2 linked regions of the Homo sapiens genome follow. The protein of the gene in region 2 interacts with the protein of the main gene of each other region in a pairwise test. Each region holds a gene or a part of one and is shown on either strand. Other genes may lie near its edges. The genes, in order: DZIP3 and RNF38.

The links.
Region 1: the proteins of RNF38 (region 2) and DZIP3 interact in a two-hybrid assay, tested with the Homo sapiens proteins (one large-scale study listed by BioGRID and IntAct).

The regions. Positions count from the first base shown.
Region 1 is NC_000003.12:108,645,031-108,648,855, forward strand, and holds part of DZIP3 (E3 ubiquitin-protein ligase DZIP3), read left to right. Parts: intron 1-1,586; coding exon 1,587-1,619; intron 1,620-2,912; coding exon 2,913-3,082; coding exon of another isoform or gene 3,083-3,088; exon of another isoform or gene 3,089-3,825. UniProt on the Homo sapiens protein: E3 Ubiquitin ligase proteins mediate ubiquitination and subsequent proteasomal degradation of target proteins.
Region 2 is NC_000009.12:36,372,530-36,376,354, forward strand, and holds part of RNF38 (E3 ubiquitin-protein ligase RNF38), read right to left. Parts: intron 3,599-3,825; coding exon 3,405-3,598; intron 1-3,404. UniProt on the Homo sapiens protein: Acts as an E3 ubiquitin-protein ligase able to ubiquitinate p53/TP53 which promotes its relocalization to discrete foci associated with PML nuclear bodies. Exhibits preference for UBE2D2 as a E2 enzyme.

The sequences.
Region 1 (3,825 bases), on a different chromosome or scaffold from region 2:
AGTTAGCCAGGTGAAGCAGACTGAGAAGAATGTTTCAGAGGGAAACAAAAATAAAGGTATAGAAACATAAAAATATACTGCAGGCAACTAAAAAATGTTGGCTTCATTGAGATTAAAGTAGGGGAGAGTTCATAGAGTACATTCAAGAGGATTTTTTTGTCACATTAAGGAGTCTGCATTTTTCAGAAAGAAATTGTTGAAGACTTTTGAGTACAGTTTTATCACTTTAAGTGGAGTTTTATTCTCCAAAATTAATAAAGTTTAAAACCATGACATGTAAGTACTGTGTGGTTTCAAAGATGTTCGTTTAGACACAGTGTGGATGTATGTTTCTTCTACTTTCTAGCAGAATCTTGTTTAGTTTACAATTTTAGCAGCTATTCATTGGCTGTAGATAATTTTAAAAATCAGGTAACATTCATGCAAGTGTTTGTATTGGCCACTCCCAAACTTGTCTATTGATACGGAAAAGACTTCAGACCTCCTTTCCCACATCTCAGGATACCTTCTCAGCTATTCTTTTGGAAAGCAGAGTTCAAGGCATGACAACATCTCTGAAACCCTGCTGTGCTATTCAGGATGACTTCCTGGTCTCAAGTTATTTACAGCCTAATGAACAACTGATAACCACACTGATGCTATATAAACATACAACTGTAAAAGTTTCTAGTGAACTGGTCCAGATTTTCTTCAGAGATAATTGATGTGCCCAATTTCAGTCCTGGTATTTACTAAGGCTCTGGAATACCTTTGTTTTCTTGCATAATCTAAGAATGAAAGAGGAGGACACTGAGTTTGATATATAAGAAAGTCAGGCAAGAATTTTTGACTTATAAATTAGGGTTTTAAAAAATACATTTACTCTATTAGGATTTTAAATAATTCATGAGAATAGAGTATTTGAGAAAGAGTTTTGAGCACCCATTCAATTCAAAGCATTTTAAGCAGTTCTTACTCAAGTACACTGAAGAGCTTATTGGTCAAGTCCCTTTACTAGAGGCTTTCTTACCATCTTATATTTCTTTCCTCAGCTATTCTAGTTGCTTTTTATTTGGATATCTGATAATTTGATTAACATCCATCATCCCACTAAATCTCCATGAAGATTGTCTTTTTTTTTCTTCACCATTCAATCTCTAGAGCTTAACACAGCCTGATGTACATTGTAGGTGCTCAATAAATATTAATGGGCAAGGAGAGCAAGTGATGATCAGATAAATCAGATTGCTAAAAATAGGTCCCAACTTTCAGTGGAGGTTTGCTGTGTAATTAACTATTATTTCATGGCCTTAGATGGTAAACATAAATATTCGTTGCTTGGTTTAAAGTGCTTGTGTTCTAGGCTTTATCTGTGATACCACATTTTTGTTTACTTTTTTTTCTCTAATCATGGGTTTATAACCTTTATGTGATAATCTAAAGATTGTGCCTTGTCTAAACTGGATTGATGAGCAAAGCTGGTTATTTTTCCAGTTACTTACAGAATAAATTGGTGCAATATAAAAATATTCTGCCTTAATCCTAGCCAGACATTCATTTGTTGCGTTTGCAATTGTACATCTAAAATTTTTCTTTATGTATTATAGGAATTGCTCTACAGTCAATAACAGGCAGTCAGCGTAAGTATATTTAGAAATAAAATGTGTAAATGACTTTTTAACAAGGGATACCTATGAAATTTTTATTTGTTCAGATAAACTAAATGATAAACTATAATTGTGAAGAACTTGGGCCAGGCGCAGTGGCTCACGCCTATAATCCCTGTACTTTGGGAGGCTGAGGCAGGTGGATCACAAGGTCAGGAGATCGAGACCATCTTGGCCAACATGGTGAAACCCCGTCTCTACTAAAAATACAAAAATTAGCCAGGTGTGGTGGCGGGTGCCTGTAGTCCCAGCTACTCAAGAGGCTGAGGCAGGAAAATTGCTTGAACATGGAAGGCAGAGGTTGCAGTGAGCCAAGATCACGCCACTGCATTCCAGCCTGGGCGACAGAGCGAGATTCAGTCTCAAAAAAAAAGAACTTGGAAAATGATGTGATCAAATCACCACTGGTCTGGCTGAATCGAGAATGAGCTTTATTCTGCCTTTGGCTTAGTGCATGTGCTTCAGGGTTTTCCCAAGGATGATGTTCTAACGTTTTACTCACAAAAACTTCAGCAGGCAAAAATACCTTCCTGCTTTCTCTGTTTGGTGTTTAGCGTGTATAACTTTATTTAGTCTGTCTATTGTTTATAGCTATATACTTTTTTTGCCAGGTGATAAGTTGTAATTGTTTAATTTCCATTTTTGTGCTATTTTTTTTAAGTGTAATTAATATTATTCAATTAAAATTATACTTAAAAAAAACACCACCACAGATTTGTTTGGGATAAAATGCTGGACTCTCTGGAGACCAGTCAGACAAAGTCCACAAGTTTTGAGACTGAGTCTCTGGGGCAATATCAAGGAGCAAAGTCTCAAAGAAAAGGTCACATAATAGGGGGCTCACACCCCTCTTATGAAAAAGAAAACAGAAAAAATAGATCTTTTGTCTTCTTTTTCTTTATATTTCAGATATATGTGCTAAAATAATACTAGTTGCATTATTAATAGGATCAAGGTCAGGACATGCAAAAAGTTAGTATTTAGAGTCTACTTATGTTCTAGAGTATCTAATATCTAGAGTCTACCTAAGATTCCAGTAGGTAACATAGCACTCAGGTTCACACTGATTAGTTCCAGGCTGGTGTTTGTACATATTATTTGGTAACTGATAAATGAACATCACATTTTCATCGAGTAATTGAAAAGAGTAAGATATATTTTATTTCTGTTTTGTGAATGTTGCTTTTTTGGGCAAACATTATAACATTGATAAGAAGCTGAAATTGCTTTCATCTAGATTTTGAGAATTTTGTCTTTTATGTTTAGGTATTGAAATAGAAGAGTTACAGAATGAGGAAGAAGAACTAAGTCCACCTCTCATGGAGTACAATATAAATGTGAAATCACACCCTGAGATACAGTTTGCAGAAATTAATAAAGATGGGACCTCAATACCCAGTGAATCTTCAACAGAATCTCTTAAAGATCTCCAGGAAGTATAAGCTCTCATTAATATTTGAGTTAGAAGAACTTATTCTGGGCCTTTAATTTGTTGCATGTGCTGTACTTAAAGCATCCCAGATAATTTTAGCTTATATTTTCATAGTGTTTATACAGAGCTTGAATTGGAATGGTCCTTTCCTTCCTTGCCTCAGTACTTCCTTCCATAATCTTTCCTGCCATAACCATTTATTTTGCCACCATTTCTTAAACACTTATGTGGCAGGCATTATGCTAGACTGTAATATGTTTTTTTAATCCCAGTTGAAGTGGATGTGGGAAGGTATTAGAAAGTAGAAGAAAGTATAGTCTAAAATAGAGAGGAAAGAAAGGAAGAGAAAAGTGGGATATTTCAAAACCATTTGCGCAGAGGTAGAATGAAATTCGTCCAGAATGGAATCTCCGTATTTCTTTACAAATAAGTGGTAACAGTTATTATATAGTCACTAAATTATCCTTAGATCTTTCATCTTATAGGCATGAATATGTTGCTTTTTAAAAAGTGTCTTCCTCCTTTGTTACATCCATGTGTGTAAGTGAGCATCTGTGAACTTTTATCAGTAACCTACTTATTGACATTATGTGTTGTTCCTTTATTCATCAGTGATTATTTAAGGACAGAAGACTAGGATTAAAATAAAAATGATAAAAACAAAAATAATTGTTTCCATAGAATCTAGAAAGAAATACCTATAATATTAGAAAACAAAAGATCTCAGTGGTGAGAGGAAATATATTT
Region 2 (3,825 bases):
AAACTGCATCTGCTTGGCACAGCCTGTTTCTGGGAGAAAATCTGGCAATATGCTTATAGGTAACCTATATTAAGTAGTAAACAAGAACAGAATACAGAGTAAGACACACTGCTGAAAAAAACACTAGGAGAGCCAGTTTTCAGGGTGGTAAATACTCTCTACTACTCTTTTGTCTTGCTATGAACGAGGACCATGATGCTTTTCAAAGAACTCAAAGCTAATTACTATTATCATCATCTGTAAACAGACATTTCTGACACTCCCTTCCTGGTCCAAGGCATTTCCTGTGACTAGCAATTCTACTCCTAGACTTACATCCTAATGAAACTTTTGCACATGTACACAGAGAAATGCACACACAAAGGTTCCTAACAGTATTGTTTATAATACTAAGAGCCGGGTGCAGTGGCTCATGCCTGTAATCCCAGCACTTTGGGAGGCCGAGGTGGATGGATCACCTGAGGTCAGGAGTTTGAGACCAGCCTGGCCAACATGGTGAAACCCCATCTCTATTAAAAATACAAAACATTAGCTGGGTGTTGTGGCAGGCACCTGTAATCCCAGCTACTTGTGAGGCTGAAGCAGGAGAATCACTTGAATGTGGGAGGTGGAGGTTGCAGTGAGCCGAGATCGCACCATTGCACTCCAGCCTGGGCAACAAGACTGAAACTACATTTCCAATAAAAAAGTTAAGAAACTGGGCATAGCTACTAGCCAACAACAGCAGGCGGATACATAAATTGTGTGGTACATTAATATAATGGAACATTATATCACAGTAATAGAACTATTGCTACTGCTATCAACATTAAAAACAGAATGCTTAATAAACAGTCAAAGAAAAATACATTTAAAGGAGAACAGGCAAAAACCAAAATCACATTATCTTAACAGTACATTCCTAAGTATTAAAAACTATGACTGAACAGGGAATAATGTCAAATTCCAGAACAAGGTTACCCTCTAAGAAAAATGAAGGGGAACGGTAGCACCTGAGGCCTTTGAGGGATCAATAACACTAATTTTCACCTAGGTGGTGGGTGTATGTATTTGTTAGCCCTTTTTTTTTTTTTTTTTTTAATTTGAGACAGAGTCTCACCCTGTCCCCCAGGCTGGAGTGCAGTGGCGCGATCTCAGGTTTTGCCATTTTGCCCAGGCTGGTCTCGAACTCTTGACTTCAGGTGATCCGCCTGCCTCGGCCTCCCAAAGCGCTGGGATTACACGTTGTCAGCCACCGCACCCGGCCTTGCTAGCCTTTTTTTGTTTTTTGTTTTAAGATGGAGTTTCGCTTTTGTTGCCTAGGCTGGAGTGCAATGCACACCCGGCTAATTTTGTATTTTTGGTAGAGACAGGGTTTCACCATGTTGGTCAGGCTGGTCTCGAACTCCTGATCTCAGGTGATCCATCCACCTCGGCCTCCCAAAGTGCTGGGATTACAGGTGCGAGCCACTGCGCCCGGCCTGCCTTTTAACTGTACATTTGTTTTATTCATCATAAAATAGGAAGACTACAGCAGGTACTCAGGCCTTAACTTTGCAATAACTATACTTTCTCATGCTTATTATATTTAATAGCTATAAAATACTTTATCTGCTAGCCATATACTATCTTACCTAAAAACATTCCCATGTAATTGGTTAATAAGGTACTGGGTAATGTAAAAGTCTTAATGTCTCAACAGAATAGAGCTCAGAGACAGGTTTATGTTCTTTCAGCTGGAACACAGAATGCTGGTTTTAAGATCCCTTCTGCATTAGCCCGCTCAGGCTGCCATAACAAAACATTGCAGACTGGGTGGCTTAAACAGATACTTAATTTCTCAAAGTTTTAAAGCCTAGAAGTTTGAAATCAAGGTACCAACATAGTCGGTTTTTGGAGAGGGATCTTTTCCCTGGCTCTTGCAGACAACTACATCTCACTGTCTCCTCATATGGTGGAGGATGAGTTCCCCGACATCTCTTTTTGAGACAGAGTCTTGCTCTGTCTCCAGGCTGGAGTGCAGTGGTGCGGTCTTGGCTCACTGCAACCTCCGCCTCCTGGGTTCAAGCAATTCCCCTGCCTCAGATTCGCCCGTCTCAGCCTCCCGAGTAGCTGGGACTACAGGTGCGCACCACCACAGCTGGCTAATTTTTTGCATCTTAGTAGAGACGAGGCTTCACCATGTTGGCCAGGATGGTCTCCTGACCTCGTGATCCGCCAACCTTGGCCTCCCAAAGTACTGGGATAACAGGCGTGAGCCACCCCGGCGCATTGCTTCTTAAAGGACATTAATCCTGCTGGGTAAGGGTCCTAACCTTATGACCTCATTTAACGTTAATTACACTTCCTTAGAGGTCACATCTCCAAATACAACCACACTGAGGGTTACAGGAAGGTTACAGCTTCAACACATTAATTGGGGAGGAGGGGTTACAAACATTTGGTCTGCAACACCTTCCTAACTCAAGATCATTGATATTCCTTCAACATCCTGGATATGCACCTCACAATGCACTCACTATTTCCCTGGGATATGAAATACATGACCTCTGGCAACAAATAATGAGGAAGAAACTCAGGAAGAAATGCACTCCTCTAGGATGAAAAGACAAGGGCCAAATCCCATTGCCTAAAAGTTGAACTAAACTTGTCATCTTTTCATACCACGGGCTCCACAGTTGTTTTTTGTTTTGTTTTTTAAATACAGTGTCTCATTCTGTCACCAACGCTAGAGTGCAGTGGAACAATCATAGCTAAGGTTCATTGCAGCCTTACACTCTTGGGCTCAAGCAATCCTCCTGTCTCAGTTTCATCTTGGACTACAGATGTGCGCCAACATCCTCAGCTAATTTTTTGTTTTTTTGAGAGAGACAGGGTCTTGCTATGTTGCCCAGGCTGGTCTCGAACTCCTGGCCTCAAGTGATCCTCCCACTTTGGCTTCCCAAAATGTTGCGATTATAGGCATGAGCTACTACTGTGCCAAGTCTCCATGGGTTTATAAGAAACATAATTAAGCTCCTAATTGCCTTTGAGGATACAGAAGGAAAAGGAATGGAGTAGAAAAGGAGTAGCTCATTTCTAAGACTTCCATATATCCTTACAGTTATGAACTACAAAATGCATCTTCTAATAGTCAAGATCGCAGGCTAGTCCACAACAATCTGTACCTTAAGTAGCTAATTTCATATATAATGGCATCGACTGATTTTAGCCTCTTTCCATTTCTTCATCTGTCAATGATAAGCTAAATAAACTCTTCTAACCTACTGGAAATCTAGGCAACTTTCTTTTTCGTGAGTGAATGTACGTGTATATGTGGTGATGTGTTTATGAAATGCCTACAGAAAAAATGTTTTCTGATGTTAAATATACTCACAAATCTACCAATGGAAGAAAACTTAAGAAATAAATTGTAATCAACTAACCTTCTTCTGTTGCGTGCAGGTGTGTTGCATCGTTCCCCTGAGAAGTGATGTTGGCTTGGTCGAACTGAAGGGGGCTGCCTATTTGATGTCATCTCCCATGGTCGCATTGGTGGTGAGGGAGCTGGTGATGCTGATGTATAATCAAAGACTGAATGAGAGAGGCGCTGTCTCTTAGGACTTGGACTATCTTCACTCTGCCAATGCAACAAAATGGATCAACTGAGTAAGATCTTTTAAAGATTTCACATTACTGCATATGCACAGGTGTTAGGATGTACTTAACCTAAAATCTAAAAATGTAAAGCGGGGAAAAAAATATATGCTATCAATTCAAATTTAAAACCTTTAAAAAATGCTGGGATGGGGTAGAACAGGGGAGGGAGATGCACAGTAAATGATACGAAGTGAAAAATAAGCTTTG